Linked DNA regions of Homo sapiens. The protein of the gene in region 1 purifies or fractionates together with the protein of each later gene. This does not show direct contact. Each region holds a gene or a part of one and is shown in the gene's direction. Other genes may lie near its edges. The genes, in order: RBM19, NOL12, ZCRB1 and NOL10.

Region 1 (7,022 bases):
CAGCCAGGTGGGTGTTCTCGGTGGCGCCAGCCAGCCAGCAGCCACTGGAGAGTCGAGAATGGCCTTTCCAGGGGAGATGCAGATGGATTTAAGGATCTGGCCTTCTAAGGACTATTACTGATTTCTAAATTGTCTCTAAAGAAAAGAAGAAATGTTACATGGGCTGAGACAAGTGGCCTATCTGACCCTGATTCTGTCTGTCCAGAGCCATGTACAAGAGGTCTGCCTACAACCCCACAGTTCCCCCACACAGATCGGCACCCCCAACATCTCACTCCCCTACCCAGTGGCTTCCCAGAGCATCTGTTATCTGTTCGGGGACTTTGACCCTTCTTGAACCTAGCAGGGAAGAGTCCAGCACCTCCATGTGCCTGTTCTCCAGCAAGTAGCAGGTCTTAGATTTATGGATGACTGCAGCTTAGAGGGCCCCTAAGACATCATGAGACCCCTTCATTTTACAATCTGGGATACCAACGCTCAGAGTGGGGAGGTGACTTACAAGGTCAAACAGTCTATATGTGAGAGGAGCCTGGACTAAAACTCAGGGCTTCTGACTCCCAAAACAGCCCTTTCAACAGCCTTCCCAGGCCTCACATTTTTACCTCAAGATGGATGAGGAGGATGGATGAATGAAGATGTATGGGGGATGGGTGGATGGATGGATGGATGGATGGATGGAGGATGAATATGGATGGTGGATGAATGGATGGCTTGATGGTTGGATGGATGGATGGATGGATGGATGGTGGATGAATACAGATGATGCATGGATGGATGGGTAGATAGATGGATAAAATAAATATACTAATAGCTAACATTTATTAAGACTTACCAAAGCACTCTTCTAAGTTTACATGTTTAATTAGCTCATTTCATTCACATGGCCACTCTGTGAAAGCAGCTCTACTGTGCTTCCACCCTACAGAAGGAACCACAGTCACAGAGGGGTGAAGTCACTTCACAGCTAGTCATGGTGGAGCTGAGTTTGAACACAGGCCTTCTGGCCCCAGAGTCTGTCTCTCTAACTGTAACACTGCGGCCTGAGTTGCACCTAAAAGGCCCACAGGTGCCCAGCCTTTCCCACCTGCAGATGGTTTTCACTCCCCTCACCTCACTCAATCCTCATAGTAACCTTGTGTGGCCTCTATAAGATGGGTGTGACTGTTAGCCCATTTTGCAGATGAGAAAAATTGAGGCCCACAGAAACAAGGTAATTGACCCAAGGTCTCAGGTTACATTAGCGGCTGAGCTAAGACTTATTCCCAGATAGGCCATATGCCTAGATTTTTCCATTATATTTTATTGGCTCTTTTATCCTCCTCCAACATTATTTTTTAATAAAATTATTGCTAACGTTTTCAGAGTGCTCATATTACATGTACTTTTACTAACCCATTTAATGAAAACTTTTCCTGGAGCGATCCTGTGAAATAAATGCTCTGTCCTTGCTGTCGCTGCGGGAGCTGAGGCACAGTTAAGTACATTTCTCAAGGCTGAATAGCTTAGTCTTTTAGTTTTGGTTCTCCCAGAAGCAGATTCTGAGACAAGGATTCAAGGGCAAACAGTTTTGGGGGCAGTGCAGAAAACTCTGGTGAGAAAGGGATGCAGGGAAGGGAAGGAGCCCAGGGTGCAGAGTGTGCTGCTGCAGTACGCTGCCCTGTGGCTGCCTGGAGCTCTGCCTAGGGGAAAGCCTGCAGCACTCATACCTCAGTCTCATCCCACCCAAGGACAAGGAGTGCAGCAACTCCTGAGAGCTGTGGGCTGCTCCCAGGGGGCGTTAGCTCTGCAGCACGTCCTGCTGGCTGCACGTGGTAGCAGGTGGGCGGTCTGTAGTTCAGGAAAAAAAGCCTTGGTACTGAGATGCAGACCCCAGCCACTGGAAGCCTTGGAAAGTGCGGCCCTGCTCAGGAGTGGAGGAGGGGCTGGGATTTGATCCAGAAGCTCCAGCTTCAGAGTCCCAGGCCTTACCCCCTCTGCAGAGCTGCCTTGCAGCCTTGCAGGGAGCATCATGCCAGAGAGGGTCGTTCCTCCTGGGTCTTCCTCCTAAGTGCCTGGTTGCTGAGGTTCCAAATGGAGAGCCTTGTCTGGAGAGCCCCACGATCCCTGCTGGTGTCAGCTGGGGACCCTCCTCCCTCCTGTGGTCCCATGTGTGTGCATTTCCTCTTTGCAGGCTGCAGCAGAGCGAAGCAAGACTGTGATTCTGGTCAAGAACCTCCCGGCAGGCACCCTGGCGGCCCAGCTGCAGGAGACCTTCGGCCATTTTGGCAGCCTGGGCCGCGTGCTGCTGCCAGAGGGCGGAATCACTGCCATCGTGGAGTTCCTGGAGCCCCTGGAGGCCCGCAAGGCCTTCAGGCATCTGGCCTATTCCAAGGTAGGGCTGCTGGAGACCCAGAATTGATCTGGAGAAGGACCAGTGAGGGCTGCTTCAAGGGAGAGGGTGCAGTGGGCTATGGATTCACAGATGTGGCACATGGGAGCTCACCCTAAACCGCCCGTCACGATCATGGCTGAATATCATCCCTGCCGCCTGAAAACCTGTCTGGATGGGAAGAATGGGAGACGGAAGTTCTTTTTTTTTTTTGAGACAGAGTCTTGCTCTGTCACCCAGGCTGGAGTGCAGTGGCGCGATCTCTGCTCACTGCAAGCTCCGCCTCCCGGGTTCACGCCATTCTCCTGCCTCAGCCTCCCAAGTAGCTGGGACTACAGGCACCCGCCACCCCGCCTGGCTAATTTTTTTATATTTTTGGTAGAGACGGGGTTTCACCGTGTTCACCAGGATGGTCTCGATCTCCTGACCTCGTGATCCGCCCGCCTCAGCCTCCCAAAGTGCTGGGATTACAGGCGTGAGCCACTGCGCCGGGCCGGGAGAAGGGAGTTCTGAACCATCCTCCAGAAAGCATGCCTTGGTTCCTTGCCTGACTCTAGCTTTTCTTTGGCTTTCTTTACCCATGTTAATTTGGATTAGCATTTTAATTTTAATTAAATGTGTTCATTATTTTTTTGAAAAAGTATTTATTTATTTTGAAAGACAGGGTCTCGCTCTGCCACCCAGGCTACAGTGCAGTGGCGCCATCTTGGTTCGCTGCAGCCTTGAACTCTGGGGCTCAAGCAATCCTCCCACCTCAGCCTCCCATGTAGCTGAGACTACAGGCATGCACCACCACGCCTGGCTAATTTTTTGATTTTTTGTAGAGACAAAGGTCTCCCTATTTTGCCCAAGAATGAGCATTCTTGATGCTTTTGTAATCCTGTAGCTACAATGAGATGAATGAAAGTCAGTTCTGTAGGTGGGGCTGTCTCCTGGTTCTTGGTTTAGAAAAAAGCCAACAGTTGTGTATTAGTTTGCTGGCTGTGGCTGTCATAACAAATTATTACAAGCTAGTTGGCTTGAAACAACAGAAATAGATCATCCCACGGTTCCGAAGGCCACAGTCTGAAATCAAGGTGTCAGCAGGGTTGTGCTTCCTCTGAAGGCTCTAGGGAGTCTGATCTGTGTCTCTTCCAGCTTCTGGTGGCTCCAGGCATCCCTGGCCCATGGCTGCATCACTCCAGTTTCTCCCTTCATCCTCACTTGGCTTTTCCTCTTCTCTCAGTCTTCCTCCCTGTTTCTCTTATAAGGACACTTGTCATTGGATTTAGGCTCTGCCGGGATAATGCAAGATGATCTCATCTCAAAATCTTTCACTTAATGAAATTTGCAAAGATCCTTTTTCCAAATAAGGGCGCGTTCACAGGTTTCTAGGGGTTCAAGATATAGACATACCCTTGCGGTGCCACTACAAGTATTTTCTGTTTATAAGACACTTTAGCACTTCGCAGACCTTGGTCTCCCTCAGCAATTCTTAGAGATAGATATTCATGTCCCCCCCAGCAATTCTTAGAGATAGGTATTCATATGCCCCCCAGCAATTCTTAGAGATAGATATTCATGTCCCCATTTTGCTGGTGAGGAAATGATTTCTCATTCTCTGCCACTTTAACCCCGTAATAGTCTTTAGCTTGGGACTCTGTGGCCACTAAGCTCTCAGGAAGTCAGTCTGCGCCTGACCCATAAGAAAAATTATCTAGGTGGGGCCCCATGACTGAGATGTGAGCATCCTTTGGAATGTGACACCATCCTTTCTTCCTTCTGCTTTGGGAGGACATGCCAGTCACCAAAAGCTCTCTCTGTGTGAGCCACAGTTGGAGAACACTGACTAGGTGAGGCCTCCTGTTTTGGGCAGTGTCTGTTTCACCGACAAGAAGACTGCTGTCTTCATTTTGCACATATGGAAACTGATGCCCAGAGAGGTGCCCTGACCCACGATCACACAGCTAAGTAGTGATGCAGCCTGCTGTCTGCACACCAATCTGTTTCACTCTGAAGCATGTGTATTTCTCTGAAAATAACTGATTTGCAAGGCTTTCATGGAGTAGGAAATTTGAAAAGATTCAAAAAGGGCATTTGTTGACAAGTCTCACTCCCACCCCTGTCCTGCAGCTCCCCAGTAACCGCCTAATGAGGCAGGTGTCATCAGTGTCTTGTTTATCACCCGCCTGCCCAGGGCCCCTCTTTTTTTTTTTTTTTTTTTTTTTAAGAGGCAGGATTTCCCTGGAGTGCAGTGGCAGAATCCTAGCTCACTGCAGCCTCAAACTCCTGAGCTCAAGGGATCCTCCCACCTCAGCTTCCTGAGTAGCTAGGACTACAGGTGTGTGCCACCATGCCCAGCTATCCTTTTAAAAAAATAACATCTGCATGCACACATATGCACACGTATACAGGTGTTGCCCGTGGATATATGCACATAGAGAGAAAGTGTGTTCTCTTAACGGGTATTTTACACTTCCTCCTGGAGAGCTGCACTTTACCAGTGATGTGGTCGCTCCTCGTCCCACTCCCATCTAAAGTATGAAACTTTAGAGTTTCATACTCTGATTGGAAAAAACACAAAGGGGGCCTGGGAGCTGCCATATGTCTGGTGGCAACAGAGACTAAAGCCTCTCTCCTGCACCCTGAGATGCAGCATGGGGGCCGAATGTTGTCCTCAGGGAGTAGACAGCAGTCAGGGCTCTGGGCTGGGCTCCTTCCGGCTCCATTCTTGGGTGAGTTGCCCATCCTCTGTGACCCTTGGGCTGTGATCTGCATGGGACTGAGTCCCTCCCCAGCAGTGTGTTGTAATGAAGACCCACAGGGCCATCACTCTTGTCTCTGCAGTTCCATCATGTCCCCCTCTATCTGGAGTGGGCTCCAGTTGGCGTCTTCTCCAGCACAGCCCCACAGAAGAAAAAGCTCCAAGACACACCTTCAGAACCCATGGAAAAGGACCCAGCAGAGCCAGAAACAGGTAAGAGCTGAGTCTGAGACCAGGATGGCTTGGGATCCTGGTGAGGGAAAGGAGGAGGGTTGGGGGCAGCGTGAAGTTTCTTATCAAGCCTCTGGTTTAAAGCTCTTTGTTCATGCTAGAGACCAGCAGGGCTCAGACTCTCAGATTTTATGGGCATGTCCTGTAAAAAACAGTGTCAAAATTATGGATGCAATATGCTTTTAGTTTGTCAATTAAAGCTTTTAGGGGAAAAAAATTACTATCTATTAACAAGGATTCAAAGCAGAGCAAGTATAAACAACCTTCCTGTTTCAGAGATGGACCAGAATGGCTCATGGAGGAGGGTGGCTGGTATGGGAGATACTTATTCTCATGTCCTTGGAGTGGCAGTGCCCTCTGATGTCCAGTGACTGCAAAGACAGGAAAGGAAGGGGAAGCCGTGGCCCCTGGGGGCCAGATAGGGCAACCCCCACCCCCTGGCTAATGCTTCCTAGCTGGGAAAAGGGGTATCATTGGGCTTTGGGACTGGACAGTACTTTCTTGTCAGGACTGCTTTGCAAATCACAAGACATTTCACATCCCTGGCCTGTGCCTCTGAGTGTCACGAGTGCCCCCAGTCCTTGTGACAACCTGGAACACCCCCACGCATTCCTAGATGCCCACAGCGGGCAGTGTATCCCCCGCATCGAGGACCTCATAGTCTAAGGACCATGACCACATCTTAGAAGCCAAGACCAACAGGACCATGGTCATTCTATCCAGATGTTACGATTTTCCTTGTCAGTAATAACCACTCACCTATACACACCCACAATACAGCAACCAGTTGTTTAACTTATTAAAATAAGGATGTTAAAAAAAATAATAATAAGTCCTCAGCTACTCTCTCCTTTGTTCTCATTTTTTTTTAAAGGACATTTCATAGTTAAAAAAAAATGGGGAGGAACACTGTCAGATTTAAGAGTTGTTTTTTTTGTTTTGTTTTGTTTTGTTTTTTTGAGACAGAGCCTTGCTCTGTTGCCCAGGCTGGAGTGCGCGATCTTGGCTCACTGCAACCTCTGCCTCCTGGGTTGAAGCAATTCTCCTGCCTCAGCCTCCCGAGTAGCTGGGACTACAGGCGCCCACCACCACGCCTGGCTAATTTTTTTGTATTTTTGGTAGAGACGGGGTTTCACCATATTGGCCAGGCTGGTCTGGAATTCCTGGCCTCAAGTGATCTGCCTGCCTCAGCCTCCCAAAGTGCTGGGATTACAGGCATAAGCCACCACGCCCAGTCTAAGATTTTAGTGGAATAGACTTTGCTGTACCTAACCTCCCCTGCCTTGTCCACATTTCTCATTTCCTTGTTTCACTGTGTATCTTCAGGACTGGCTCAGCCAGCGCAAGGCATTCAGGAAGTGCCTGTCTGGAGGCCTGTTTCAATCAGGAAACAAAATCCTTCAGTCCCTTTGCGATCTGAGGACCCAGAAGCATCCCACATCGTTGGGGTTAATGATGATTGGTGTAAACCTTGTGAAAGCCCGACTCCTGCTCGTTTATGAGTTAAGCTCTCTCCACTCAGTTTGGATCAGGGTCTCCTTCAAAACCTGTGCCTGTTCCCATCAAAACAAAATTCTCTTCATGTCATCCTGGCTTGTTCTTAACTGTCTCCCCCAAATCACAGCTGCCTTGATTTTTACTTCAGTTACCACCCTTGAACCTAAGTAATGTTTTTTTTTT
Region 2 (7,580 bases), on another chromosome or scaffold:
ACACGTCCCCCAGGCTGCCCTGCCTTGTCCTCAGTTCACCCACATTGATTCTCCCCTACACTGGCTGACACTCACAGGACACTAGGACTGGGGCCACAACCGGGCAGAGGAAAGTCCTGGGGCAGGTAAGAGAGGCCACTGGGTGTGGAGGAAGGAAGCCCGGCTCAGCGTCAGACAGACCTGTGTTTAAACCCCAGCTCTGTGGCTGTGTGCCCTTGGACCAGTTATTCAACGTCTCTGAACCTCAGTTTCCTCATCTGGCAAACTTTGTTAAGACTGCACTAGTTGGCCAGGCACGCTGGCCCACGCCTGTAATCCCAGCACTTTGGGAGGCCGAGGTGGGTGGATGACCTAAGGTCAGGAGTTCGAGACCAGCCCGGGCAACATGGCGAAACCCCGTCTCTACTAAAAATACAAAAATTAGGCCGGGCATGGTGGCTCACGTCTGTAAATCCCAGCACTTTGGGAGGCCGAGGCGGGTGGATCACCTGAGGTCGGGAGTTCGAGACCAGCCTGACCAACATGGAGAAACCCCGTCTCTACTAAAAATATAAAAAATTAGCCGGGCATGGTGGTGCATGCCTGTAATCCCAGCTACTTGGTAGGCTGAGGCAGGAGAATGGCGTGAACCCGGGAGGCGGAGCTTGCAGTGAGCCGAGATCCCGCCACTGCACTCCAGCCTGGGCGACAGAGCGAGACTCCGTCTCAAAAAAAAAAAAAAAAAAAAAATTAGCCGGGCGCAGTGGCGCGTGCCTGTAATCCCAGCTACTCAAGAGGCTAAGGCAGGAGAATCGCCTGAGCCCGGAAGGCAGAGGTTGCAGTGAGCCGATATTGCGCCATTGCACTCCAGCCTGGGTGACAGAGCGAGACTCCATCTCAAAAAAAAAAAAAGACTGCACTAGTATTGGCTGGGTGTGGTGGGTCACACCCGTAATCCCAGCACTTTGGGAGGCTGAGGCAGGAGATTCATTTGAGGTCAGGAGTTTGAGACCAGCCTGGCCAACAAGTGAAACCCCGTCTTTACTAAAAATACAAAAATTAGCCGGGCATGGTGGTGCATGCCTGTAGTCCCAGCTACTGGGGAGGCTGAGGCAGGAAAATCACTTGATCCCGGGAAGAGGAGGTTGCAGTGAACCGAGATCATGCCACTGCATTCCAGCCTGGGCGACACAGCAAGACTCCGTCTCAAAAAAAAAAAAAAAAAAAAAAGATTAGCTGAGGTGATGTATAGAAATGCATGGTGCCTGGCACGCAATAGGGGCTCGGTGAGTGTTGGTTCCCTTCACCCCTTTTAAGGCTTGGTGTGTCCCAAGGGCCTAGGAAACTAGGTCCAGATAAGTTAAGTCAATCTCTGTCCTTAGGCCACCTGCGCCCCACCCTCAGCACCTGTTTTTGCCTGTGTGACCTCAGACAAGTGACTGCACCTCTCTGAGCCTCAGTTTCCTCCTCAGTAAAATGTGGATTGTACCTCAAAAGAGATCATCATAAGCCAGGCACAGTGGTGGGCACCTGTGGTTCCAGCTACTCCTGAAGCTGAATGGGGAGGATCGCTTGAGCCCAGGAGTTTGAGACCAGCTTGGGCAACATAGTGAGACCCTCATCTCTATAAATAAATAAATAAATAAATAATAAAATCAATAATCTAAAGAGAGTAAAGAGCTAAATAAATGTCAGCTGCTCTTGTTACTCTTTTTCCTCATTAAGTTTATCATCACTTCTTTTCTTATTGTTTTTGTTTTTTGTTTTGAGACAGAGTTTTGCTCTTTTGACCAGGCTAGAGTGAAGTGGCGGGATCTCGGCTCACTGCAACCTCTGTCTCCTGGGTTCAAGTGATTACTCGAGTAGCTCAGCCTCTCGAGTAGCTGGGATTACAGGCATGCACCACCACGCCCGGCTAATTGTCATATTTTTAATAGAGATGGGGTTTCATCATGTTGGTCAGGCTGGTCTGGAACTCCGAACCTCAATTGATCCACCCACCTTGGCCTCCCAAAATGCTAGGATTACAGGCATGAGCCACTGCGCCTGGCCTGTTTTTTTTTTTTTTCTTTTTTTTTTTCAGAGATGGGGTCTCACTCTGTCACCCAGGGTGGAATGCAGTGGCATGATCACAGCTGCAGTGCAGCCTCAAACTTCTGAGCTTGAGTGATCCTCCCACCTCAGCCTCCCAAGTCGCTGGACTATAGGAGTATGTCACCACGCCTGGCTAATTTTTAATTTTTTGTAGAGACAGGGTCTTACTATGTTGCTCTACTGTCTGTCGCCAGGCTGGGGTGCAGCAGCGCAATCTCGGCTCACTGCAACCCTCCCGGGTTCAAGTGATTCTTCTGCCTCAGCCTCCCAAGTAGCTGGGACTACAGGCGTGTGCCACCATGCCCAGCTAATTTTTGTATTTTTAGTAGACATGGGGTTTCACCATGTTGGCCAGGATGGTCTCGATCTCTTGACCTCGTGATCCTCCCGCCTCAGCCTTCCAAAGTGCTGGGATTACAGGTGTGAGTCACCGCGCCCGGCTTGAGCCTTCACTTTTCATCTCCAACCACTCTGGGTGGGAGTGGAGCCCTGGCAAACCAAGCAGGTCGAAGCCTGGGACTGGGAGGAGACAGACCAGCTGCAGAAGGTGACTCTCTGGGCACCTTCAGCCAGGGTGATGCCTCTACCCAGGAAGGTGCCAAGGGTGGCTTTAAGGCACTGCCACTAAGGGGCAGAAGCAGCTGGTCAGAGGTGCAGTCCAGCACCCTAAGGGAGCCCCCTGCATTGCTCTGGGCCACAGAACTGAAAGGCCAGGCCTGTAGTTTAAGGGTAACTTCCAGCTGGGCGCGGTGGCTCACGCCTGTAATCCCAGCACTTTGGGAGGCCGAGGTGGGTGGATCACCTGAGGTCAGGAGTTTGAGACCAGCCTGACCAACACGGAGAAACCCCATCTCTACTAAAAATACAAAATTAGCCGGGCATGGTGGCACATGCCTATAATCCCAGCTACTAGGGAGGCTAAGGAAGGAGAATCGCTTGAACCTGGGAGGCGGAGGTTGCAGTGAGCCGAGATCGTGCCATTGCACTCCAGCCTGGGCAACAAGAGTGAAACTCCGTCTCAAAAAAAAAAAGGTAACTTCCTCTCAGGATCCCACATAGATTTCCCAAGCAGAGGAGCTGTATGGAATGAATTCAGCATTCTGGAGTGCTGCACTTACTGCCTGCCTCCTTCCAAAACTCAGAGTCAGGGTACAAAGATCAGCTGGGCGTGCTGGCAGGTGCCAGTAATCCTAGCTACTCAGGAGGCTGAGGCAGGAGAATTGCTTGAACCTGGGAGGCGGAGACTGCAGTGAGCCGAGATCACAACACTGCACTCCAGCCTGGGTGACAAGAGCGAAACTCTGTCTCAGAAAAAAAAAAAAAAAAAGCGGATGAAGGATTCTGGCATACAATCCAAGTGACTAAAAATCCCCTTCAGGCGTTGTTTCACTGCAATCTTTCACAACCATGCCCTCATTCTCAGTCAAGGATGTTATTATACACTCATTCCACCTTTGGGCAAAGTGAGGCACAAAGAGGGAAGATGGCTTGTGCAGAAAACACATGTATGCGTGCCTTATGTTAGACAAACTTTACATAATTAACTTCCTCACAATCACAGCTGTCAAGGTTTAGTCCACGGACCAGCAGCATTAGCATCACCTGAGAACCTGCTAGAAACGGAAATCCACTCAGAAACCTCTATCGGATCAGAAACTCCGGGGTGGGGCCCAGCGATCCAGGTTTTTAGCCCTCTAGGGGATTCTGATGTATGCCAAAGTTCCAGAACCAGTGTCTACAACAACCCTACGAAGCTACTATACTTTCCCTTATTTTACAAATAGGGTGAGGCACCGCGAAGACCATTGGTCTGGGACCACACAGCTGTAGGTGTGATGCCAGTATACAAATCCAGGCAGTTTGGCTCCCTCTTGGAGACTACCAACGAGTTGACATCAGCATCTAAAGTAGGGGCCAGCACGGTGGCTCACGCCTGTAATCCCGGCACTTTGGGAGGCCGAGATGGGAGGACCACTTGCGGTCAGGAGTTCAAGCAGTCTGGTCAACATGGTGAAAACTTGTCTCTACTAAAAATGCAAAAATTAGGGAGTATGGTGGCGCACACCTGTAATCCCAGTTACTCAGGAGGCTGAGGCGGAGAATTGCTTGAACCTGGGAGGCAGGGATTGCAATGAACCGACATCCGCCACTGAACTCCAGCCTGGACGACAGAGCGAGACTCCATCTCAAAAGCAATAATAATAAATTAAAGGAAAAAAATATCCAAAGTAGGGTTAGTACAGGAAATTTGGGCCATTCACGAGTAACTCCATATTGAGTGTGTGCCAGGCACAGTCCTAGGCAGTGGGGTCCAGGGGACCTCGCTCTCATTGAAGCGAGGCTGGGGAGGGGCTGGAGCTGGGAGTCACGGAGAGATCAGGGACCAGCGCGTCATGCATGGGAAGAGGGAAGAAAAGGAGCTGGGAGGTCCCTTTAAAAGGCTGGGCCTGGTGGACGGAACTTCGGTGCGACGCTAAAGTGTGCGCCCGGGAGGATGAGTACGCTACACCCGGAAGTGTCTTCAGGGAGAGGAAGCCGGCGGCCTCACTGCTATGGGCCGCAACAAGAAGAAGAAGCGAGATGGTGACGACCGGCGGCCGAGGCTCGTTCTTAGCTTCGACGAGGAGAAGAGGCGGTGAGTGGCAAAGCCGGACCGGACTCCCCTCGAGCTGTTCTTCGCGGCCAAGGCCAGGTCTGGGGCCGAGCACGCTCCCGCCGGGGGCTCTTCCGGTCCCGCCCCCTGGCGTGGCTAGAGAACCCCTCTCGGCCTTCCAGCCCGCGTTCCCGCTTCTCCCTTCTCGGCCGCCACCTTCTCCCTTCTTGACCTCCCCACCTCGCCTAGTGTCTGTGCGCCGCCAGATAGCCGGAAGCTCGGGTCTCAGAGCAGTGGCTTCGACCACCCTAGCCCAGCCCAGTCCATCGGTCCGGCACACAGCAGGCGCCCAGCCGTGGTTGATAAATGATGAGCCAATGAAATGAGAGTGGCTTAAGTTCATTCATTCGCTCCCTAGACATTTATTGGGCTCCTTTGGTGTGCCAGGTCCCGTATCAGGAAGCAGAACCTCTGAGCCTCAGCGTCTGGCCAGATAAATAAATGGCACATGGTAGCGGGTCAGCGAAAAGCCCAGTGCTGGACCGTGGGACAAAATGGGAACAGAGCAGCTAGCACTGTGGAGATGAGAAGGGGCTGAGATTAGACCGAGGGAAGGAGGTAGGGAAATGCTGGGCATCATCAGGAAACTCCTAGCGTGCATCAACAGGCCCTACAGGCGAGTTTAGGGTCAGGTGTCCTGGGGACATGGGTGTTGGTCCAGTGCAGGGTTTCCGAAGGTCTGGATGGTGGTGGCCCTGAAAACCCTGTTGAGAGAGTAATGAGGTTTGTAGGTGTGGAAGGGGTTACCTCATGTACTGTGTGTGGCCCCCCCCCCCACCCGCCCCACAGCCTGGCCCTGTTGCCTGAACCTGAGATCCCTGGAGAGTATTGAGTGGAAAGAGGCAGTATCTCCCTTATTTTCCTAAATGTATCCTTTCTCTAACCTTGGGCAAGTAACCTAGACTCTGTGACTCAACGTTCCCATCTGTAAAATGGAGATTGATACCCACCGCACAGGTTATTGTGAGGGTTTTTTGTTTGTTTTTGAGATGGAGTCTGTGTCGTCCAGGCTGGAGTGCAGTGGCATGATCTCGGCTCACTGCAACCTCCGCCTCCCAGGTTCAAGCAATTCTCCCCGCTCAGCCTCCCAAGTAGCTGGGACTGCAGGCATGCGCCACCAAGCCCAGCTAATTTTTGTGTTTTTAGTAGACACGGAGTTTCACCATGTTTGCCAGGCTGGTCTTGAACTCCTGGCGTCATGTGATCTTCCCACCTCGACCTTCCAAAGTACTGGGATTACAGGCGTGAGCCACCATGCCTGGCCATTGTTGTGAAGGTTAAATGAGCTAATACTTACACTTTTTTGGAATGGTGCCTAGCACATAGTGAGCGCGGCATTAGCCATTTTTCTCCTAGAGCGAGCCCTTCTCTCCTTGTATAATGACTCTCCTGTCTCTGCCGGCTTCCTTCCTGTAGGGAGTACCTGACAGGCTTCCACAAGCGGAAGGTCGAGCGAAAGAAGGCAGCCATTGAGGAGATTAAGCAGCGGCTGAAAGAGGAGCAGAGGAAGCTTCGGGAGGAGGTACGCAGGGGGAAGGTGGGAGGGAGGTCTTTGATTCTTAGGGCACTTGCAGCCTTGGATTTCCCTAATAGAGGCAGCTGCTGGCATGGGGCGATGTGTGTGTGGGCAGGACTGGGGAATAGTTTATACAGGTGGAGACTCTGTGGGCCCGGGTCTGGGAGTGATGGAAGATGGAGTCTCCTCCTGATCTTGCAGTATGGATCATGGTCTCCCTCACCCTGGGGGTGATTAATACCCCAGCCTGAGGTTGGACTGAGAGGCCATACTCACTGTGTTCCCTGCCTGTGTGGTTTCAGCGCCACCAGGAATACTTGAAGATGCTGGCAGAGAGAGAAGAGGCTCTGGGTAAGTGGCATGCTTGGCCTGACCTGGAGAACAGCTGATGGGCCTGGTTTATACCCTTGGTGGGTGGAAGGGATAGAAGCTGACCTCCTTGGCCCTAGGGATCTTGGGGGGTACCCTGGGGCCAGGGGTGGTCCTAAGCACCTCTAAGTGCAAGTGGAACAGAGACCAGGAGAAGGAGTCCCAAACCCCATGGTTAACCAAGCCTGAGAAGAGAGCCCAGTTTTTAAGGATGGAAAGGACTAGGGGTGGAGGGGAGGGACAGCAGTAGCTGTCACAGAGGGTTTGTCTGACATGGGGACCAGCTAGAGCATGAAGGAAACGGGATCATTCACAACATTCATCCACAGACCAGGCTCTACAGCCAGTGACCTTGTGGATGCGCTCCACGTCCACAGAGTAGAGGGGGCACTGCACTCCAGGGCGGGAGGGAGGCTGGAGCCTGGTCACTCGTTCCCGTGACTGAGACCAGGTCTGTGTCCACCCCCACAGAGGAGGCAGATGAGCTGGACCGGTTGGTGACAGCAAAGACGGAGTCGGTGCAGTATGACCACCCCAACCACACAGTCACCGTGACCACCATCAGTGACCTGGACCTCTCGGGGGCCCGGCTGCTCGGGCTGACCCCACCTGAGGTGGGTCCCAGTCTCAGCCCTGGGAGGAAGGGGCGTGGGGGCAGACCAGCTTGTCAGGGTTGCTCAGTGCTGGCCCATGTCATGGGTATCCCACTGCCAGCCCTGGGAAGAAGGGGCGTGGGGGCAGACTGGCTTGTCGGGGTTGCTCAGTGCTGGCCCATGTTGTGGGTACCCCACTGCTGGGGCTCCTTCCCTTTGGACCCTTCATTCCCTGCTTCCGGGGTGCTGCAAAGACCAGCCCCACTGCTGAGCGGCTGAGGAGCTTGGGCAGGCTCCTTCACCTTGCCTGCTTCCCTTTCTCCATCAGTGAACTGGGGGTTGCTGATGGTGGCACCTGCCTTGTGGGATTGGTATG
Region 3 (7,683 bases), about 72 Mb from region 1:
AGATTGCACCACTGCACTCCAGCCTGGGTGACAGAGCGAGACTCCATCTCAAAAACAAAAACAAACAAACAAAAAAAGATCTGTACCCTGAACAATTGTTTTGCCTTGAGATGCTGTTAATCTGTAACTTTAGCCCCAACCCTGTGCTCACAGAAACATGTGTTGTATGGTATCAAGGTTTAAGGGATCTAGGGCTGTGCAGGATGTGCCTTGTTAACAACATGTTTACAGGCAGTTTGCTTGGTAAAAGTCATCACCATTCTCCATTCTCGATTAACCAGGGGCACAATGCCCTGCGGAAAGCTGCAGGGACCTCTACCCAGGAAAGCCGGGTATTGTCCAAGGTTTCTCCCCAATGAGACAGCCTGAGATATGGCCTCGTGGGACGAGAAAGACCTGACCGTCCCCCAGCCCGACACCCATGAAGGGTCTGTGCTGAGGAGGATCAGTAAAAGAGGAAGGCCTCTTGCGGTTGAGGTAAGAGGAAGGCCTCTGCCTCCTGCATGCCCCTGGAAACGGAATGTCTCGGTATAAAACCCGATTGTACATTTGTTCTATTCTGAGATAGGAGAAAACCACCCTGTGGCTGGAGGCGAGATATGCTGGTGGCAATGCTGCTCTGTTATTCTTTACTACACTGAGATGCTTGGGTGGAGAGAAGCATAAATCTGGCCTATGTGCACATCCAGGCATAGTACCTTCCCTTGAACTTATTTGTGACACAGATTCCTTTGCTCACGTTTTCTTGCTGACCTTCTCCCCACTATCACCCTGTTCTCCTGCCGCATTCCCCTTGCTGAGACAGTGCAAATAGTAAACAATAAATACTGAGGGAACTCACAGACTGGTGCCGGTGCAGGTCCTCCATATGCTAAGTGTTGGTCTCCTGGGCCCACTGTTCTTTCTCTATACTTTGTCTCTGTGTCTTATTTCTTTTCTCAGTCTCTCGTCCCACCTGACGAGAAACACCCACAGGTGTGGAGGGGCAGGCCACCCTTCATCCAGGTATCTGTGGAATTAACTTTCCTGCCCTTCAATGTCACCTTCTTAATGTCACTTATAACAGATCCCCCAATCGTGCTATCTTTAATTAGCACTAATAATCTAAGATACCACATAATGTACTTTTAATACACATTAGTCCCTCACTAGTAATATTTCTACTAGTAGTATTTCTAGTAGTGAGGGTTTAATCTGTATTAAAAGTACACTATATAGTATCTTAGATTATTAATGCTAATAATAATAAAAAGCAGGAATGTCTATTTGTTCACTGATGAATATTAAGCTCCTAGAACAATTTGCACACTGTGCTCAGTATTCAGAGTGAATTAATATTCTAATGTTTCTATTAGAAAATATTTGAAATTCCAGGCCGGGCGCGGTGGCTCACGCTTGTAATCCCAGCACTTTGGGAGGCCGAGGGGGGCGGATCACGAAGTCAGGAGATCGAGACCATACTGGCTAACACGGTGAAACCCCATCTCTACTAAAAATACAAAAACAAAATTAGCCGGGGGCGGTGGTGGGCGCCTGTAGTCCCAGCTACTCGGAAGGCTGAGGCAGGAGAATGGCATGAACCCGGGAGGGGGAGCTTGCAGTGAGCCAAGATCGCGCCACTGCACTCCAGCCTGGGTGACAGAGTGAGACTCCGTCACACACACACACAAAAAAAAAAAAAAATTGAAATTCCAGACAACTAAACATAAATTTTAGAACATAATTAGTTAAGGTCATTGAAAAAAAAAAATTAACTGATGCTGGGGCTGGGTGCGGTGGCTCATGCCCGTAATCCCACCATTTTGGGAGGCTGAGCCTGGCGGATCATTTGAGGTTGAGAGTTCAAGATCAGTCTGGCCAACATAGTAATACCCCGTCTCCACTTAAAAAATATACAAAAATTAACCAGGCATGGTGGGACATGCCTGTAATTCCAGCTACTCAGGAAGTTGAGGCAGGAGAATCCCTTGAACCTGGGAGATGGAGGTTGCAGTGAGCCATGATCGTGCCACTGCACTCCAGCCTGGGCAACAGAGCAAGACACCGTCTCAAAAAATAAAAAAATAAAAAGTACTGCATTCTCTACTAGTTTCACAAGTCACTTGACTTTCCAACGCTTTAAGGATACTTCTTTTATAAGCCCGAATGTACTGCACTAAACTTAGTAGGAGATCCCTGATTGTCCATTATAATTGATCAATTAACTGAAATTACACAAGTAAACAAAAATGCCAGATGTCTGCCTACATATAATATTTATAAATCTGAATTTTATTTCATATATGGATGGAAGTTAAGGCCTTAACCGGTCAGCCTCCTTCCAGTGTTTTACCCTCCATTTTACCCTAAAAAAGGATAATCAACTGTTAACGCATATTCATAATGTGAAGTTTCCAGGATCAAGAATCCAAGAGGTTTTTTATTAACCATAATAAATCCAAACTTCTATCTTCCATATGCCTCCTTCTATTATATCTAACCTTCTATTCTCTCCAAAAGCATATAATTATGCCTGTTTCCTTACTGTGCCACAAACAGACTAACACATACTACCACGGAGCTGTTTATTTTCCAAACGGGATATCTTTTTCCATTCTCTCATTCAACATCCAACGGTCCATCAAGGCCCAACTCAAAACCTATTATTCTCCACAAAGCCCATTATATAAACCCTACAAGACTTAAAACAGATTCCAAACTAGTGACTGATAGGCCATATGAGACTTGTGTTTGACCCACTTTTTTTTTTTTAATAAAATTCTATTCCACTGACAACATTTAAAAACTGGGAGAGGATGCTTTTTAAAAAATGGTATTTCCAACTTTTTTTGAAAAAATTAGATGTTCTGGCAAAACTGGGATCATATTCTCACATAGCCACAATCAGCTGTAGCTGAGTGGCAGGTGACCCCTTCTAAGGGTGAAGTATTCATTAACGTTAACTGCCTGATCTCTGCAGCATACCTTCAGCACCTGCAATCATTCAAGAAATAACTGACTGTCTTATGTGCCAAGAACTGTATTAGCTACTGGAGTTACAAAGATAAACGAGACAAACACAGTCCCTCACCGACAGTCTCGCTTAGTAGGGATGGCAAAGAAGCAATTAAGATACATGTGATAAATGCCGTGAGGGAAGTGCAGGACAGCTAAGAGTACATAGCAAAAATACCTAACTCTATGGAAGTTAGGGTATACCCCTCAAGTAAAGTGACAGCTAAACTCAGATCTTTAATAGAAGTTATCCAGAAAAAGATAGGAGGAAACAGGGAGCTCAAATGTCCCAGAGAGAGAAAAGAGCCTTTGTGAAGATACTGAGGGAAGAAAGTATTCTGAGGAATTGAAATCCGTTCAACATGGCTACAGCCATGCCCAACCTTTAAATGCAGGGTCAGAGAAAGGGCTCAACTGAAATGGCTGGCAGGAAAATCTACGTGTTATCAATAGTTAAGGTTAGGAGATGAAGGAGAATTTCACTAAAGAAGTTGAATATGTAAAATAGTTTAAGCAGGAAATAGAGGTTTCAGAAAGCACAGATGGGGTGTTGAGGGGTTAAATGGGGAAGAAACGAAGAAGCAGTGATAGCCTAAGTCGAAAGAAAGCACAAAGCAGCATGGAAATGAGACTATAGCACAGAAGACCACAGAAGCTTACATCTTGGGCGGTAACCAAGGATAACAGAGATGTAAAGCATGGTAAGTTTGGCTGGCCACAAGTATGCCTAGAGAATTAGTGCCAGCGGTCTCCTGTCGGCCACGGAGGCATTCAGGCCTCTCAAAATTCAGCTGCGCCCTGGATGGATTGTACTTCCGTCTCTATAGAAGACATCGGCTTCACTCTGGATTGATTGTGCAGGCTCCAGGAGAGGCTGTGGGTTCCAGGCTGCTGGAACGCAGGCTCCCAGGGAGTGGTTAGAGGCCTGGTCTGTATGTGCTGGTAGGCAGAAGTATAAATTACCTTGCATTACGTTCTGATTTTTCTGTAGGAATGGTGGGCATGTTATGGCCTCTTAGAGAAAAAGCAGTGCGTAGCCATTATAGATTTACAGGAAGAGAAAAGGTGCCAAGAAGATCAACACTTGTCCATACCCATACTAAAGATGAGTCATTCTGTGAATCCAACTCTCCCCAAGTTGACCTCGTCTCCCCAACTAGACTGAGATCTTCACCAGAAAACAAAACAAAACAAAACATAAAAGGTCTGTTTATTTTGTAGTTCCCAAAGTGCCTAATAGCTGGGTACCGTGAACACCTTCAGTAAAATTACCGACTTCCTGACTCCTCTCGGGTCACTGAAGTTACCTAGCTCAGTCGTCTTCTTGCATATTAAGGCGCTACAGAGAGGCGAACCCCTATCTTAGACTCAATACTTCCCTTTATTCCAAACTCCACTGCGTCTCTCCACCCTCAACCGCATGGGCAGAATTGTCACACAATTCAAAGGCAGGAGAATCCAGGACCCGACACAGAAAACTCCCGCCCACTCCCCCCCGTTTAGCAGCCCGCACACGCTCTGCATCCATCTCTGGGAAAGGTAAAAAGCGCTCACCGACTCTGGCCCTCCGGGAGACCCCGTAAATGCAGCCGTCCGCTCGCCGCCGTTATCCCAGGTAGGTACTTCCGGCGCGCGCAATGACGTTAGCGAAGCGCTCGCCTCTGGGCCCGCCTTCGGGGCCCGGATCTCAAACAGTCGGGAAGAAGCACCGTGGCTGCTATTATCTGCTCTCCGCGCCTGACCCCTCCCAGGACTCGTGATGCCAAGGCCGCTGCGAGCGGCTACGAAGAGTCGGGGTTGAGCCCCAGCTGAGCCGAGGGCTCGCACTCTTCTGGTCTCCCAGGCCCAACCCACCTGAAGGTAAACGCCTCCTCAGCTGCGGCCTTCTCTCCTGCGGGGCCCCCTCCCCAGACTCGGCTGCCAAAACGCTCTGCCCCTCTCTCCCGCCACCCTTTTTATTCCAGGACCTTAACCTCTGCCTGCCTTCGCGGCTCTCAGCAGAACGTGTAACGCATAGTTTCAAATGAGAAACTTAAAAAGCGACGTATCTATGTTGAGTTCCTGAAGTTTTCTAAATAATTCCCCCATAACACCAAACATGAGGCAGTTTTCTCATTCCTTCACGAATTGGCATGCCATAGAGTCAGTATTTTTCCATTTGTGATGGTTGATCTTCCCATCTCAAATACACACCGCACGCTCTTTTTAAATCAGAAATTTGAATTTGGTTGAGCCTGATATTTTCACGGTAATTTGCTGACTTTGTAAGATAAGATGTGAAAATTACTGATTACATTTGTAAACTTTATATACATATACACACATACCTACAGGTCTGTCTCTTCGAGGCACCAAGCCTATTTATATAATGTATCATTTCATAATTTGGCAATAAGCAAAATTAGCGTTTCGAAAGAAGTTTATATTGTCGATACATAAAGCTTAAATTTACTCCTTAACATCATACTAAAAGGGGAAAAGAAAATTTTCCTCTTAACACACCACTCCAGAGAAAAAAAATATTAAGACAAGCAAAAAAGGTACCCAGCCATAGTACAGGCATGCACAGCATAACAACTTTTTGATTAACAACAAACCACATATACCACAGTGGTCTCCTAAGAGTGTAATACATTGTACCATATTTTTAGTGTACGTTTTCTGTGTTTAGCTATGTAAATATTTACCATTGTGTTTCAACTGTCTACATTATTCACTACATTAACATGCTGTACAGGTTGTAGCCTAGGAGCAATAGGCTAGACCATCTAGGTTTGTCTCAGTACACCCTGTGATGTCTGCACTGTGAAATCACGTAACACTCAGAACATACCTCCTTCATTAAGCATAGCATGACTGTGTATTAGCAAAAATCAGTGGCTAAGGTTCTGTCTGAGTCCCCATGCTCTTTCTGACCTGGGTGAGCAAGGTGCAGGTAATGTACATATACAGTACATATTCAATAGAGCATTTTTTTTGCTCATGGTCTGAGTGGAAGTTAGGAGTAGCCTCAGGGTTTTTCCTTCATCTGTTCAAAACCCGTCTCCCTACCCATACAATCTGGCACTGAAAGTGTTGGTATAAAGAATACTTGAAAGAAGAAGAACCAAAAAAGAATTTTTTTTAAGTGGTGACTGGGAAAAAGGAATTCCTTAATTCAGCCTGCTGGAGTCATTGTTCCTAACTTCCTAAAATGTAAGGAAGGTGTACACATCTGGCATAATTAAATCGGTGATTGTTAATACTTTATTGGTTTTTGTTTTTTGTTTTTTTCCAAATAATACCCAGACTGGTCTGATGTATTGGTTTTATTTGGAATTAATAATACTTGGTTTAGGCCAGGTGTGGTGATTCATGCCTGTAATCCCAGCACTTTGGGAGGCTGAGGCAGGTGGATCATTTGAGGTCAGGAGTTCAAGACCAGCCTGACCAACATGGTGAAACACTGTCTCTACTAAAAATACAAAATTAGCCAGGCATGGTAGTGGATGCCTATAATCCCAGCTACTCGGGAGGCTGAGGCAGGATAATTGCTTGAACCTGGGAAGCAGAGGTTGCAGTGAGCCGAGATCACGCCATTGCACCCCAGCCTGGGCAACAAGAGGGAAACTCCGTCTCAAACAACAAAAAAAGAATCCTGGTTTAGACTGATTGCTGATAAGTTTGTTTTCACTTTTAGAAATGAGTGGTGGATTGGCTCCAAGTAAGAGCACAGTGTATGTATCCAACTTGCCTTTTTCCCTGACAAACAATGACTTGTACCGGGTAAGTAAATCTTATCGAGTGACTGCTATTTGAGATACAGATAACCTTAAGCAAATAGTTCTCCCTGGCAAATTCTTTTTTCCTTTTTTTTTTTTTCTTTTTTTGAGACAGTCTAATTCTGTCACTGAGGCACGAGGCTGTAGTGCAGTGGCACTATCATGGCTCACTGCAGCCTCCCCGCCCCCTCAGGTGATCCTCCCACCTCATCCTCCCAAGTAGCTGGGAATACAGGTGTGTGCCACCATGCCTCTACAAGCTACCTGGGAGACTGAGGTTGGAAGATTGCTTGAGCCTAGGAGGTCGAGGCGACAGTGAGCCAAGGTCACACCACTGCACTCCAGCCTGGGTGACAGAATGAGACCCTGTCTCAAAAAAAAAAAAGAAAAAAAAATAGAAGCTATATTTATTGAACATTTAAGTCAAATTATGTGTTAGATACTAAGGAGATGCTAAGATGTTAGGTGCTAAGGAGAAAAAATAACGCAGGAAAGGTGGGCTATTGAACGTTAAGTTGGGAATGGAAGTGAAATTTTACATAGGGCGGTCAGAAATGCCATTATTGAGAAGGTGACTTTTGAATAAAGACCTGAAACGAGTAAGAGGCACCTGTGCAAATTCTAGAGGACAAACATTTCAGAAAAAGAGGGGTAATCTTAGGTAAGCCCACTCGAGGTGCCTTATACGACCTATTTACATCATGGTAAGGACTCTGGCTTTCACTCTGCATGAAACAAGAAGCCATTAGTAAGTATTATATAGAAGACTGTACTGGCCTTCAGAACCCAGTGTTGCTAACACTGCTATCCAGTTATTTTACATTCCAGCATTATACAGCTTAATCATAGAACGAAAAAATTCGTTATTATTGGTTGCATATACTAACACATTCTAAAAGACTTTTTATATAATAGGAACTCTTAGTAT
Region 4 (7,022 bases), on another chromosome or scaffold:
GTATCAATTAAAATTTTTGTTTTTTTTAAATTACAGTTATACATGCATAGTTTTAAAAACTAAACATTTCAGTCTGGGCACAGTGCCTAACACAAACATTATGGGCTCACACCTGTAATCCCAGCACTTCGGGAGGCCAAGGCAGGCAGATCACTTGAGGCCAGGAGTTTGAGACCACTCTGGCCAACACAGTGAAACCCCATTTCTACTAAAAATAGAAAAACTAGTTGGGTGTGGTGGTGCGTACCTGTAATCCCAGCTACTTGGGAGGCTGAGGCAGGAGAATTGCTTGAACCTGGGAGGCAGAGGTTGCAGTGAGCCAAGATCACGCCATTGCACTCTAGCCTGGGCAACAGAGCAAGACTCCATCTCAAAAAACAAACAAACAAACAAAAACAAAACAAAACAAAAAAACATTTCTGTAATCCCATCATTTTGGGAGGCCAAGGCAGGGAGGATCACTTGAGCCCAGGAGTTCAAGACCAGCCTGGGCAACATGGTGAAACCGCATCTCTACAAAACATTAGCTGGGTGTAGTGGTGCATGCCTGTGGTCCCAGCTACTCAGGAGGCTGAGGTGGGAGGATCTCCCTGCAAGGCCGCAGTTAGCCATGGTTGTGCCACTGCACTCCAGCCCAGTAACAGAGTGAGACTCTGTCAAAAACAAAAACAAAAAAAACCTAAACATTTCTCCAAGGTTTGTTAGGAATGTAGGCCATCCCATTGTCTGCCCCTTTTCCTCCCTCTGCCTTCCTCCATTTTCACCTCTTCTCAGACAACCACTTTTGCCTTTTTTGCTGATTATTTTGGTATAAATCTCTCTCTCTCTCTCTCTCTCTCTCTCTCTCTCTGCCCCCTCCCCCTCCCTCCCTCTTGCCTGTAGTCCTACCTCTTAACTTTTTAGTGTTAGGCATTATCTTTTGATAACTTTCCTTTCCAAGGAAGCTATATTGTGATTTTGATTAAGTTGGTATTCAGCATTACATTGTTGTACTTTTGTTTTTTGAGATAGAGCCTGTTACCCAGGCTGGAGTACAGTGGCAGAATCATAGCTTACTGCAGCCTCAGTCTCTCGGGCTTAAGTGATCCTCTCACCTCAGCCTCTCAAGTAGCTGGGATTACAGGTGCACACCACACCCAGCTAATATATATGTATGTATATATTTTAGTAGAGCTGAGGTCTCACTGTGTTGTCCGGGCTGGTCTCCAACTCCTGAGCTCAAGAGATCCTCCCACCTCAGCCTCCCAAAGTGTTGGGATTACAGGCACGAGCCACCATGCCTGGCCTACGTAAGTGCTATTTCCAGCCGAGTCAGTAGTAATCTGTGACTGCATTTCTTGTTCAATCTTTGTGTACTTTGAAGTTAATAATTGTCTCTCTTGCTCGTTTTCTATGTAGTTATCACTAATCAACACCCAATTCTATGTCAGTTCTCTAAGTCTTATTTTGAGGTGTTTAGATAGGTTAGACTTATGCTTATTTACCTTCCTGAAGAAGTTGCTTCTAGAATTTTCTGCCCCATTCCATTCTAGCCTGGTCACCTTCTAATCCCGGGACCTCCCTTTACCATTATCCTGGGGATTCACTTCACCTCAGCCCATGTTGGACAGAGAATTACAAGAACCTTCAGTTTCCTGAAGGAATATAGTTTCCAACCTAGGCAAGCAGTCAGTCAATGTGAGGGTATGGTAGATATTTTCAGACATGCAAGTTCTCAACAACAACCAATTCCCCTTAAATGCTGCTTTTCCTCGGGAAGTTGCTAGGGGAGTTGTTTCTCTAAAATAACAGTGTAAGCCCAGGAAGAGGAAGCGTCCTGGGAAACCTGACACGAAGCGACTGTACTGTGCTGCAAGCCCATCTCAGTCTAGAAGTTCGGTCTTCAGTGCTGGGGAATTTTCTTGAAAGAAAATTTCAATTAGTTTTTCCTGCCATGATCCATAGTTATTTTTTGGCAGTGAGGAATAAGAGAGTTAAAAAACTGAATGAAAACTCTAGGTGGGGACAGGGTCCCTCAGTCAGTGTGCAGTGACTTGGCCACACTGTTTGGGGAAGGACACTGCACATGTCATTGTCTCTTAGGTCTTTCTCTTGGCTGGTCAGGTCCTCCTGCTTGGGGGGGTAAAGGCCTGGCTACCAGCATTCCTAGAACTGACCACTGTAGGTCACAAGAGGTTGGAGGGGTCCAGAGGGCACCTCACCCCCATGTGCCAGCCTTGCCCTCCCCTCCTTGTGGCCAGCACACCTCTCTTGCTCTTGCAGTGCCAGCCTCAGCCAAGCAACTTCTCCGTGGGAAAGGGCTGGGGCCAGGCTTTCCAGAGCTGGGGTGTGATTTTTAAATAGGCTTTCTTTCTGGCTTCCAAATTTTTATTACCCCTATTTCCTTTCCTTTTTTTCTTAAGGGTTTATGCCCTTTTTATAAAGCTCCTTTTCTGTTGTTCTAGTGAAGTTTTAGGAGAGATTAGAAGATACTAGTGTTCAAGCCACCATCTTTACTCAGAAGTCTGTACCAGCCTAACTTCATAGGTATCATAGCATTGAAAGAACTAATTTGATTGGCCGGGGTGCAGTGGCTCACGCCTGTAATCCCAGCACTTTGGAAGGCCGAGGCAGGCGAATCACCAGGTCAGAAGTTTGAGACCAGCCTGACCAACTGGTGAAACCCCGTCTCTACTAAAAACACAAAAATTAGCCGGCCGTGGTGGCGCGTGCCTGTAATCCCAGCTACTCCAGGAGGCTGAGGCAGGAGAATCGCTTGAACCCGGGAGGCAGAGGTTGCAGTGAGCCGAGATCACACCACTGCACTCCAGCCTGCGTGACAGAGCAAGACCCCATCTCAAAAGAAAAAAAAGAAAAAAAAAAAAACTAATTTGTTTCAAATGGCAATCATTCTTCATATATGTTACTATGTTGGAACAAAATAATAATAGGCGTCCCACTCAGGTAGACAGATACCATTCTTCCAGGTAGGACTGTGGTATGAATAGTACTTTAATGTTTTCTATATTTTAATGGTAAAGTTGAGCATGTGTAGACGGGTATTTATAGGACGGATCACTAGCCAGACACTTGTAAGCTCCTATAGAACATTAATAGCTATACCTTATCCTACTTTTTTCCTTAAGACAGCTGTGAAAACAAACAGACTAGGAAAAAACCCTGAGGGAAATATTTTTACAAGCTGGGTCAGAAGAGGTTTTATTTTATAGTTGTTCATCCAAAGCATACTTGTCTTTAGGCAATGCAATTGATTTGTTTTAAATTAAGAAAAAAATCTTAATACCAGCAACATATGTAGTCTTTGTAACATTTTCTCTATTTATTAAATATGATTATTACTTTAATAAATATAGTAAGATGAAAAGTAAATATTTGCCCTTGGGTTTTTTTAACCTGAAAATGTGTAATAGGCACATAGTTATTCATTTGAAATTATCTTTCACACTATCATCTATCCGATATCTACAGATAACTCCAAAATTTACATCATAGCCCCCTCCCTTCTCCTGAGACATGGCGCATCGTTCCCAGACACCTAGTGGTGTCCGTCTGAATCCTGGTGCTCTTCTCCCTGTGCCACAGGCATAGGCAGCCCTAAATGGAGCGTGATTTCTTCCCCTTTACTCCACCCCTGCGTTTTTTCCTAATGCTCTCCAGTGATGGATTCTAACTCAGTGTCGCCAGCTTTCTGGTTGCTTAAGCTACATGTTTGAGAGAAGTTTCTAACCCTGTTTTTAATTCTTAACCCTCCCATCTCCATAGCTGGATCTGTCAATTCTAATTTAGAACTGTATCTCGTAATTATTCTTTCTTAAAAACTGTCTGTTCCCATTGCCCTAATTCAGGCCCTGTCTCTCTTGCCAGTTTCTTAAAATGGCTTCTTAGTCTTCTCATGATGCTAACTTCTTACTCAGCAGTCCGTCAGACATCAGGCTGCTGCAGACTTTTGAAGCACAATTTTGGGTTGGTTTGTTTGTTTGTTTGTTTGTTTGTTTGTGACAAGGTCTCTCTGTTACGCAGGCTGGAGTACATGGTGTGATCTCAACTCACTGCAGCCCTGACTTCCCAGGCTCAAGCGATCCTCCTACCTCAGCCTTCCAAGTAGCTGGGACTACAGGCATGCACCACCACGCCTGACTAATTTTTTATATTTTGTATAGACAGCGTCTCACCATGTTGCCCAGGCTGGTCTTGAACTTCTGGCCTCAAGCAGTCCTCCCACCTCAGCCTCCCAAAGTGCTGAGATTGCAGGCATGAACCACCACCTGGCCAGTTCTGTCATCTGGGAGTCTTGAAGCACACTTCTGTTGATCATCCATCTTCTCCTTCCTCCCTCCTTCCCTGTCTCCCTCCTTCGTTTCTCTTCCTTTTTCTCTTCCTCTTCTTCCTCCCCCTCCTCCTCTTCGCTAGTGGTTTCCCCTTATATCTTCAAAATAACAGTCATGGTATTTAAAATCCTTTACAGTATGACCCAATCAAAAAATTGTTTTGAAATTGCATCATTCTTATGTCGCCAGACTATTCACCACTCCCATCGGCTGGAAATGCTGTTTCTTCAGATTTCTACTTGTTGAAACCTACTCATCTTTCAAGCCCCCTCCCTGATGCTGCACCCCCCAGGGCCCCTCCTGGGGTGTCTTTTGTTGGGATTCCTTTTTCTGTCCTCTCCTGTGGCACTTTCAGCACTACCGAGCAGCCCTCAGAAGAGGCCTAGTAGCACGTGTTTGCAGTGTTTTTTCTTCCTTACTAGTTTAGGATCAGGAACTCGATCTTACCTTTCTTTTTCCCTTCGTTGTAAGTCTTTCTTGGAAATGATGTTTAATCAGGGAAACTTGCTGCATTTAATATCTTAGAATTTTAGGTAAGGGTTTATCTGTTTTTAGGTACATACAAATAATAAACAGGCCAAGTTCCTTAATATCTTATGATTTACTAAACTTTTGTATAGGTCTGTCACACAAATAATATTCAGAACTCAACTGCCTGCAATCTTGTTTACTCTCAACAGTGGAGAAATAGTAAAGTAGTCTGTTCAGCAGAGTCAGAGTCCATCACAAACAGGTCAGCTTTTTCCAGCAGTGTTCAGGGCTGTTTACTCTGATTGACAAACAATTCTGAGTAAGCCGTTTCATCTGGCTTCCAAGCCTGTAGCAGAGAAGGAACAATAAGACAGTCCTAAATGTGTAAGATTCTCTGTCATCTACTTAAGTGAACAGGTAAGTTTACAGTACAGTTTAGAAAACTTTCCATTGAAAATGGTACAAATAAAAAGGAATTTAGTATCAGTCCTGAGCTATCTAAATGGGTCTCAGTAGCCAAAGTTTTTGTATCTGAAGGATACACAATATCCTTTGACAACAATTAGTTGACCTGAGGGGGAATATTGATGAAACAACCCTGTAGGGGATGGAAACGTCCCTTCTGTTTCCCAGTAACTCAGCTGGAATCGGTAAACTGACATCACCAGCTTCCTGCATCCCACCATGTGAGTTACTGACTTTGTATACCTCCTCTCCCAGTTTTGGAATCTGAAGTTGAAAGAATTGCTTATTTTAAGTCAGTGTAGTAACTAAGCTTTATTTAAAAGCCCTGTTTTCAGTGGCTCATGCCTGTAATCCCAGTACTATGGGAGGCCAAGGCACGAGAAATTGCTTGAGCCCAAGAATTCAAGACCATCCTGGGCAACATAGTGAGACCCATCTCTACAAAAAATAAAAAATTAGCCGGGTGCGGTGGTGCACCTGTGGTCCCAGCTACTTGGGAGCCTGACTGAGGTGGGAGGATCACTTGAGCCCAGGAGGTTGGGGCTGCAGTGAGCTGTGATTGTGCCACTGCACTCCAGCCTGGAGTGAGACCGTATCTCTAAAAAATAATAAAAGCCACTTTTTAAAAACCTAGTATCTTCTTGAAAGGTGTTTTTTTGCATTAAAATGTTAATTGAAGAAATTCTTTCTAATCTGTTAAGCATAAAGTTAGCCAAAAGGGTCATTCTTGGCTCATTGTGTGTAATGGCCAAGTGGTGTAGAGCATCTGCAAAGTAGATTAATAGAGGTTGTTTTGGTGGTGGCAGCTAAAACCTAGGGGCACGTTGAAAGTCCTGGAAGAAATTTCATAATGAGTTAATAATGTATGCCTCATGCCGCTTATTAACTTATAATAGAATCAGTGTTTTAAAACCATGTTTCTGGTCAAATTTTAGTCAGATATTAACTTAAATTTTTACGTACTTTTTCCTCCTTGTAGAGTCTTCCTAATATTCTCACCGATGATCGATTTAAAGTTATGTTTGAGAACCCTGACTTCCAAGTAGATGAAGAGAGTGAAGAATTTAGGCTTCTGAATCCACTTGTTTCAAAAATTAGTGAAAAAAGGAAGAAGAAACTAAGACTCTTAGAGCAACAAGAACTTCGTGAAAAAGTAATGTACTCCTTATCAGTTAGAATTTGCTACTGTTTCTTTAATGTAATGTTTTCTTTGTAAGTTAGAAGAGTCTTTGATTATACTTGAGATGTAATTAATTCCATATTAAGTGTTTGACATTGGGCTTAGGAGTATTATCTTATTTATTTAAAGGCATTTCTCCTGATGCATGCAGTAGAGCAGCTGTTAGGCACTCATTAATGGGCCAGTGCTGCTTCAGAGAAACCAAGGGGTCTGTGTTTGACTGGGGGAAAGGAGTTGCTGCTTACTATTTTTATTCTCAGGAAGAGGAGGAAGAGCCGGAAGGAAAACCAAGTGATGCAGAAAGTTCGGAGAGTTCAGATGATGAAAAAGCCTGGGTTGAAGAGGTCAGGAAGCAACGCAGACTCCTCCAGCAGGAGGAAAAAGTGAAGCGGCAGGAACGACTCAAGGAGGACCAGCAGACAGTCCTAAAGCCCCAGTTTTATGAGATCAAAGCAGGAGAAGAATTTAGAAGCTTCAAAGATTCTGCCACAAAGCAGAAACTGATGAAGTGAGTAGCACTGCCTGAGCGCACAGTTGACATGTAACCAAGCCCTTGCTTTTCCTCTCTGGCACATTGC

What was found.
Region 2: the proteins of RBM19 (region 1) and NOL12 purify together in Homo sapiens (affinity purification with mass spectrometry; 3 studies listed by BioGRID and IntAct, with this or other methods). This does not show direct contact.
Region 3: the proteins of RBM19 (region 1) and ZCRB1 purify together in Homo sapiens (affinity purification with mass spectrometry; 2 studies listed by BioGRID and IntAct, with this or other methods). This does not show direct contact.
Region 4: the proteins of RBM19 (region 1) and NOL10 purify together in Homo sapiens (affinity purification with mass spectrometry; 2 studies listed by BioGRID and IntAct, with this or other methods). This does not show direct contact.

Annotation. Positions count from the first base shown.
Region 1 is NC_000012.12:113,935,309-113,942,330, reverse strand, and holds part of RBM19 (probable RNA-binding protein 19), read left to right. Parts: coding exon 1-7; intron 8-2,170; coding exon 2,171-2,371; intron 2,372-5,194; coding exon 5,195-5,324; intron 5,325-7,022. UniProt on the Homo sapiens protein: Plays a role in embryo pre-implantation development.
Region 2 is NC_000022.11:37,681,768-37,689,347, forward strand, and holds the start of NOL12 (nucleolar protein 12), read left to right. Parts: upstream 1-4,575; 5' UTR 4,576-4,625; coding exon 4,626-4,708; intron 4,709-6,142; coding exon 6,143-6,248; intron 6,249-6,544; coding exon 6,545-6,593; intron 6,594-7,082; coding exon 7,083-7,225; intron 7,226-7,580. UniProt on the Homo sapiens protein: Multifunctional RNA binding protein that plays a role in RNA metabolism and DNA maintenance. Participates in the resolution of DNA stress and the maintenance of genome integrity by localizing to sites of DNA insults.
Region 3 is NC_000012.12:42,323,095-42,330,777, reverse strand, and holds the start of ZCRB1 (zinc finger CCHC-type and RNA-binding motif-containing protein 1), read left to right. Parts: upstream 1-4,683; 5' UTR 4,684-4,854; intron 4,855-6,673; 5' UTR 6,674-6,675; coding exon 6,676-6,759; intron 6,760-6,918; exon of another isoform or gene 6,919-7,078; intron 7,079-7,683.
Region 4 is NC_000002.12:10,588,973-10,595,994, reverse strand, and holds part of NOL10 (nucleolar protein 10), read left to right. Parts: intron 1-6,243; coding exon 6,244-6,417; intron 6,418-6,704; coding exon 6,705-6,952; intron 6,953-7,022.